Linked DNA regions of Homo sapiens. The protein of the gene in region 1 interacts with the protein of each later gene in a pairwise test. Each region holds a gene or a part of one and is shown in the gene's direction. Other genes may lie near its edges.

The links.
Region 2: the proteins of STRN (region 1) and MOB4 interact in binary tests that used the Homo sapiens proteins (3 or more experiments, as listed by UniProt).

What each region holds. Positions count from the first base shown.
Region 1 is NC_000002.12:36,854,654-36,858,576, reverse strand, and holds part of STRN (striatin), read left to right. Parts: intron 1-553; coding exon 554-721; intron 722-3,224; coding exon 3,225-3,365; intron 3,366-3,923. UniProt on the Homo sapiens protein: Calmodulin-binding scaffolding protein which is the center of the striatin-interacting phosphatase and kinase (STRIPAK) complexes.
Region 2 is NC_000002.12:197,532,897-197,536,819, forward strand, and holds part of MOB4 (MOB-like protein phocein), read left to right. Parts: intron 1-2,633; coding exon 2,634-2,734; intron 2,735-3,923. Other genes in the region: HSPE1-MOB4 protein, read left to right, coding at 2,634-2,734.

The sequences.
Region 1 (3,923 bases):
CTATCACTGCATCTCAGTTACTGCTGTTTGAGAATTTGGGGATTCCTGTAGATGTCACTTCCTGTCCATTATGAATGCCATATTTTCAGGAAAAACTGCCATCCATCATATAGTAAGATAAGTGAACAGAAGGAAGTATAGCCAAAGTGCTAAGGGACTTCAGAGAGGGAGAGGACCTCTCTGTTCACTTCCTCAGGGAGTGTGAGTTGTGGTTTCTCCAAAGATGAATTAAATTCAAATGATTTCGTATCAACGTGCTTTAAAAATATTTAGACAAATGGAAGGACAAAAGGAAGGGGGAGGAAATACTCAGTTTTTTTAAGGGGGAAAAATACGTGCTTTTAAATTTTAATTTAAAATTTTTTAACTTTATATTTGTATATTTCCAAGCTTGTTTTGATTTACTGTAGCCTGTCAGAAGAATAATAGAAACCAAGAATCATATTTTATACTGTTATCAGGTGCTATTGTTTATATATTTTACTTTCTCTGAAATCTAAGTACCTTTGTGGTTGTTTTTCTCCTGATTTTGCATTTTTACTGTTTTGTATAGATCCTTCTGTTTTACGAGGCCCTCTGCTAGGCCACACGGATGCAGTCTGGGGTTTGGCTTATAGTGCAGCACATCAGCGTTTGTTGTCCTGTTCAGCAGATGGCACTCTGCGTTTATGGAATACAACTGAGGTTGCTCCAGCACTAAGTGTATTTAATGATACTAAAGGTACATACTTTAAAAAATTATTTTGCTGAATCCTCTATAAAACAGTTTATTCTGAAAATAAGCAAGCAGATAAATGATTCCCTGAACTCTTTAAATTTAATTTGAAAGTTTTTGAAGCCACGAAAGTGTATTTGTTTGAATTTCCAACCTATATATAATTTTGTTTTGTTTTGTTTTGTTTTGTTTTGTTTTTTTTGAGACGGAGTATCACTCTGTTGCCCAGGCTGGAGTGCAGTGGCGCAATCTCGGCTCACTGCAACCTCCATCTCCCAGTTTCAAGCAATTCTCCTGCCTCAGCCTCCAGCACACACCACCACGCTCAGCTAATTTTTGTAGTTTTTTTAGTAGAGACAGGGTTTTGCTGTGTTGGCCAGGCTGGTCTGGAACTCCTGACCTCAAGTGATTCGCCTGCCTCAGCCTCCCGAAGTGCTGGGATTACAGGCATGAGCCACTGCACCCAGCCTATAATTTTTGAAAGCATAGTTTTTGGTGAAAGAACACACAGATTTTAGATTTTAAAAAATTAAGATATAATTTGTATGTAGTGAAAAACAGATATTAAGGATACATTTCAGTGAGTCTGATAGATGAGTACACCCATGTAACTCATACATCAATCAAGACATAGAATCCAGGTGTGGTGGCTCACACCTGTAATCCTAGCACTTTGGGAGGCTGAGGCAGGAGGATCACGAGAGGCCAGGAATTTGGGACCAGCTGGGCAACATAGCGAGGCCCTGTCTCTACATTTTCTTTAAAAAAAAAAAAGACTATATTTGCCCATTCTCGTACCACTATAAAGAAATACCTGAGACTGGGTAATTTGTTTAAAAAAAAAAAAGGTTTAATTGGTTGACGGTTCTGTACAGGAAGCATAGCAACTTTTCTTTGGCTTCTGGGGAGGCCTCAAGCAATTTACAATCATGGTGGAAGTCAAAGGGACAGGAGGCATGTTTTACATGGCCGGAGCAGGAGGAAGAAGGGGGTGGGACCTATTTTTAAACAACCAAATCTTGTGAGAACTCTATCACGAGAATAGCACCAAAGGGGAAAATCCACCCCATGATCCAATCACCTCCCGCCAGGCCGTATCTCCAATATTGGGGATTATGTTTGACATGAGACTTGAGTGAGGACACAGATCCAAACCGTATGAGAGATAGAACATTTCCTTTATCTCCCCAAAGTTCCTTCGTGTCTTTCCAAGTCAGTCCCCTCCTTTCCTTATTCCCAGCCAGAGGTACCCACTGTTGTGATTTCTTTCATCATAGATTAGTTTTATCTACTCAAACGTCATGTAAATGGAATAGTAAAGTATGTGTTCTTTGTATCTTGCTTTTATTCTTCATTATAATGTTTTGGAAATTCATTTGTGTTATATCAATTATTTCTTTCATTTTTATTTGATAGTATTTCATTAAGCCATAATTTGTCTATTCATTTATATCTTGATGGATATTTGGGTTGTCTCTAGTTTTTTGCTATTTTGAACAAGGCTGCTATGAACATTCATATATTTTCATTATAGGTGTGTAGAGACTTAGAATTGCTGGGCTTTCAGGTGGATGTTTATTTTACTTTATGTGAAGTCACTAAAAATTTTTCAAAAAAATTTTGTAGTTGTACCATTTTACACCTTTGACAGCAGTGTATGAGCATTCCAGTTGCTCTGCATCCTTACAAACATACAGTATTGTCAGTCTGTTTAACTTTAGCCATTCTGGTGGATGTGTAGTAGTATTTCATCATAGTTTATTTGCATTTCTTTGATGGCTAATTTTGATGAGCATTTCTTTTGTTTGCTTATTGGTTATTTGTGTATCTTCTTCTGCAGTATGCACATTTTTGAACTGTTACCTTGCTGTAGTTAGATTTTGAGCCAAATGAAAAAAATCAGATTATTATATTCACTTTATATGTTTCCTTCTATTTTTATGTTTATAAATAAGCTCTAAGTTTTCATGTATTCTAGATGGTAAATAAAAATACCTTCTGTATTCTTGAGCTATTATAACTTCTTTCCAGGCTTTGATGAGTTGTCTTCATATGGTATTTGCATGACTCTAACGATAAATAATAATTTTAAATTTTACTTTTTAATTTCTCTATTTTTGATGAGCTAACATCCCTAATAAGAGATGGGTTTTTTAAAATGAAGAATTCCCACTATGTCACTCTAAGCTTGAGGTTGGGCGGAAGCAGCAAAATTTGTAATTCATACATGTTTTCCATTTGCTCTCTAAATAAAGGCTTGCATTCCATGAATATATCAGTTGAGTAACAGGTAGAAGATCTGCTAAGCAGGTAAGGGAAATAAATAGACTAGGGCTAAAAGTTACAAAGAAATAATCTCCAATGAATAGTTATGAGCTAATTCTTATTCTAATGGTAAGCCTTGTTTACTTCTTAAGGAAACCATGCCATTTTTTGTTTTGCTCTATTTTAAGCAGATTGTCAAGTAGATGGTTTAATTGCCATTCTATTTCAATATGTTCTCTTTCAGAACTGGGAATCCCTGCCTCTGTGGATCTAGTGAGCAGTGACCCGAGCCATATGGTAGCATCATTCAGCAAGGGATATACAAGCATTTTTAACATGGAAACACAACAACGCATTCTCACTTTAGAATCCAATGTAGATACAAGTATGCATACCAATTTTAAATTGTCTGTGTTTATTTTTTTAACTTAATCAAAATTACGACTACTAGAGTCAGCTGTGAAAAATATTTGTCATTATAAAGCTTTCTGTCTCTTAACTTTCAGAACACAGTTACTTAGAAGGTTGTAATTATTTACCTTTTAAGAATTTGGGTTAAGTTTATGTACATTTATAACTATACTGTTTGAAATAGCATTTGAGCTGTTATGGGTCAAGTTTTATTTTATACTAAATGATTAATTTTCAATTCTATTTGAAGAAAGCCATATTTATTCTGAATAGGAAATTCTATTTTTCATTTCTCGTAATTTCATATTTTAAATCAACTTAATTTTATATTAATAGTATGATTTGGTACAGCTCAATACAGATCATGTTGTGGCACTCAGAATTCCAAACCTGAAGCTTCTTATTGGATGCAGGAAGTCAGGAAATAAGTGCTTTTTCAGGTTATGAAGAAGATATTACAGACTCTTTTTTGGTTTTTGGCTTTCTTAACCATTGCTTTCTGTCGTTAGCCATAATCTAGACAATCACAGTT
Region 2 (3,923 bases), about 160 Mb from region 1:
AAGACCAGCCTGACCAACATGGTGAAACACCATCTCTACTAAAAATACAGAAATTAGCTGGGCATGGTGGCGCATGTCTATAATCCCGGCTACTTGGAAGGCTGAGACAACAGGATCACTTGAACCCGGAAGGCAGAGGTTGTAGTGAGCTGAGATTGCGCCACTACACTCCAGCCTGGGCGACAGAGTGAGACTCTATCTCAAAAACAAAAAAAAATTTCTATCCATAGAAGGTGTAGTGGGAACAGGAAAGACAAAAATGAATAGACAGATTGCTAATATATACAAATTACAAATGTGGCAGGAAATTGGATGGAGTTCTGTGAGGATTCGAATAATCAGGGAGTGCTTGAGTGTGTTGGGGGAACGAGAGATTTGGACAGAATTGTGATGTGGAATTTGAGGTGGCCTTTGGAGAAGGTATACAATTTAGCTGTATCTCCTCAAGGAGAGAGAGAATCAAAACTTTGAAACATTAGGATGAGATAAAAAAAATCAGGGAGAGTGGTTTCAATAGTAATTAAAGAGTCATTAAAAAGTGTTTGAGGCTGGGTACGGTGGCTCATGCCTGTAATCCCAGCACTTCGGGAGGCCGAGGCGGGTGGATCAGCTGAGGTCAGGAGTTTGAGACCAGCCTTACTAACATGGCGAAACCCTGTCTCTACAAAAAATACAAAAATTAGCCGGGCGTGATGGCAGGTGCTTGTATTCCCAGCTACTCGGGAGGCTGAGGCAGGAGAATCGCTTGAACCCGGCAGGCGGAGGTTGCAGTGAGCCAAGACTGAGCCATTGCACTCCAGCCTGGGCGACAGGAGCAAAACTCCTCAAAAAAAAAAAAAAAAAAAAAAAAGTATTTGATCCCTTTCCCTGTCATCATGGTGTGTGCGTGTGACTCAGTTCTTTGCCATGCCTTCCCACAAGACTTTAAGACTTTTAGAATCAAGTGATTCCTGGCCAAGAAACAAAAGCAAAATCGTCCCATTCCCCAGTGGATTCAGATGAAAACTGAGTAATAAAATCAGGTACAACTCTAAGAGGAGACATTGGAAAAGAACCAAGCTGGGTCTAGAAGGAATTTTACATGAGATGGCACACATACTTAATATTGCATCAAGGTCACTATCATGTCACCATATCAAGCTGAAAATGTCACCATCATCTGGACAGTTGTACATGCTGTATTGGAACAATGGTTTTTCTTTTGGTTTCTATGCTCTGCAGTAGGCTGGTTCAGTACTAAATATGTGAGACCTTTTGTTTGGAAAAAAAAGTTTTTGAGTAAGCAAGTGATATTCAAGAAAGATTGTCTGAAGTAGGCAAAATTGATTGGCTCAAGAAGGCCTTATAGTTAGTAAGTTTTTGTAACCACCCTTTTAATCTGTTCTAACGTATTTAGACTTCAGAATATCAAAAAGATTGCATAAAGCATTACAGAGATCTGAAATTTAAATTTTTATGTTATTACATTTTAAAAATTGAAAGTGACCCTCCCTTGCCTTTTTTTTTAAACTTAGTTTTTTCTGTTAGTCATTTAAAACAACTTTTATTGGATCTAATGAACATACCATACAAATCCCTATACAGTTAGAGTGATTATATTCACAGGGTTGCACAGCCATCACTACAGTCTAATTTTAAAGCTTTTTTGTTGTTGTTTTGTTTTTGAGATGGAGTCTCACTGTGTTGCCCAGGCTGGAGTGCAGTGGCACGATCTTGGTTCACTGCAACCTCCGCCTCCCGGGTCCAAGCGATTCTCTTGCCTCAGCCTCCAGAGTAGCTGGGACTACAGGTGTGTGCCACCACGCCTGGCTAATTTTTTTGTATTTTTAGTAGAGATTGGGTTTCACTATATTAGCCAGGATGGTCTCGATTTTCTGACCTTGTGATCTGCCCACCTCGGCCTCCCAAAGTGCTGGGATTACAGGCATGAGCCCCGACGCCCGGCCTTTTAGAACATATTTATCCTTCCTGAAAGGAAACCTCACCCTCATTAGCAGCCATCTTCAGTCTCTTCTGCCTTCCTCTCTGCCCTCAAGCCCTACACCAGTACAAATCTATTTCCTGTCTCAATAGATTTTCTTACTCTAGACACTTCATATAAACCAAATCACAATATGTACCATAGTTATATTTACATTGCCTATGGTGAAATCCTGTATCTACAAAATATGGAAAAGTTAGCCCGGCGTGATGGCGTGTGCCTGTAGTCCCAGCTCCTCAGGAGGCTGAGGTGGGAGGATTGCTTGAGCCCAGGAGGTGGATATTGCAGTGATCTGAGATTGTGCCACTGTACTCCAGCCTGGGTGATGCAGTGAGACCCTGTTTCAAAAAAAAAAAAAAAAAAAAGAAATTATGGTTTGCAATTTTGATCCAAGTTCCAGTCCTGACAAATACAATATCTGCATTTATGTAGTAGATTCTATCCAAATGAAGTTGAATTGAAGGATAAATAAGTAAGGGTAACCTACTTTTTTTCTTAGTTACTGATTATGATTCTATACTTGGTTTCCTATTTAGTGTATAACCCAAGTTGAACCACAAGAGCAGTTATGTATTAACAAATTATATGTACTTAACATAAGATTTACCAGGTGATATAATTTAATTAACCATAAGAACTTCTTTGTTTTTAGTATATTCAACAGAACATAAGAGCAGATTGCTCCAATATTGACAAAATTCTTGAACCACCTGAAGGCCAAGATGAAGGTGTGTGGAAGTATGAACATTTAAGGTAGGACCTTACATCAAAATACTAATAGTACCTCTCACAAAACTAGCTTTCATATTAATGATAATTATGAATTGTAAAATTTACTATGTAACTGCAGACTAAGAAGCCAAATTTTAAAGCTTTGGCATTTTCAGTGTCACAAGGTTCTCAGCTTTCTTCACTGGTTGTTTCCAGGTCAAATTATGCTGCAGAGTCACTCATTTTGAAAGGTGGTTTATTTCAGAGTTGATAATTTGGACCTGCCTCTGCACCTCTCTTCTTTTCTTTTCTTTTTTTTTTTTTTTTTTGAGATGGGGTCTCACTCTCTTGCCCACGTTGGAGTGCAGTGGTGTAATCACTGCTTACTGTGCCTCTACCTCTTAGGCTCAAGTGATCCTCCCACTTCAGCTTCCAGAGTAGCTGGGACTACAGGTGTGTGCCAGCATGCCTCACTAATTTTTTAATTTTTTGTAGAGACAGGATCTGATTGTGTTGCCCAGGCTAGTCTCAAACTCCTGGATTCAAGCAATTTTCCTACCTTGTCCTCCCAAAGTATTGAGCCACCCTTTCTACATTTATTCATTTGGGCCTTATTATCCCCGCCTTTTTTTTGAAACAGGGTCTTGATCTGTTGCCTAGGCTGGAATGCAGTGGTGCAATCTTGGCGCATTGCAGCCTCTGTCTCCCATGCTGAAGCAATCCTCCCACCTCAGCCTCCTGAGTAGCTGGGACTACTAGTGCATGCCTCTAAGCCTGGCTAGTTTTTTGTATTTTTTGTAGAGACAAGGTTTCACCATGTTGCCTAGGCTGGTCTCAAACTCCGGGGCTTAAGCAATCCACCCACCTTGGCCTCCCACAGTGCTGGGATTACCACCATGCCAGCCTGGGTTTTATTCTTATTTCATGATTTTCCTTAATTGTATCTCTTAACCGCTAATATAGTATTTCCGTTTCCCCATTTTTGCATAACTGTGTCATCTTTTGTCTTTTTTTTTTTTTTTTTTTTTTTTGAGACAGAGTCTTGCTCTGTTGCCTAGGCTGGAGTGCAGTGGTGTGATCCCGGCTCACCACAACCTCTGCCTCCCGAGTTCAAGTGATTCTTCTGCCTCAGCCTCCCGAGTAGCTGGGACTACAGGCGCAGCCATGCCCAGCTAATTTTTGTATTTTTAGTAGAGATGGGGTTTCACTATGTTGGCCAGGCTGGTCTCGA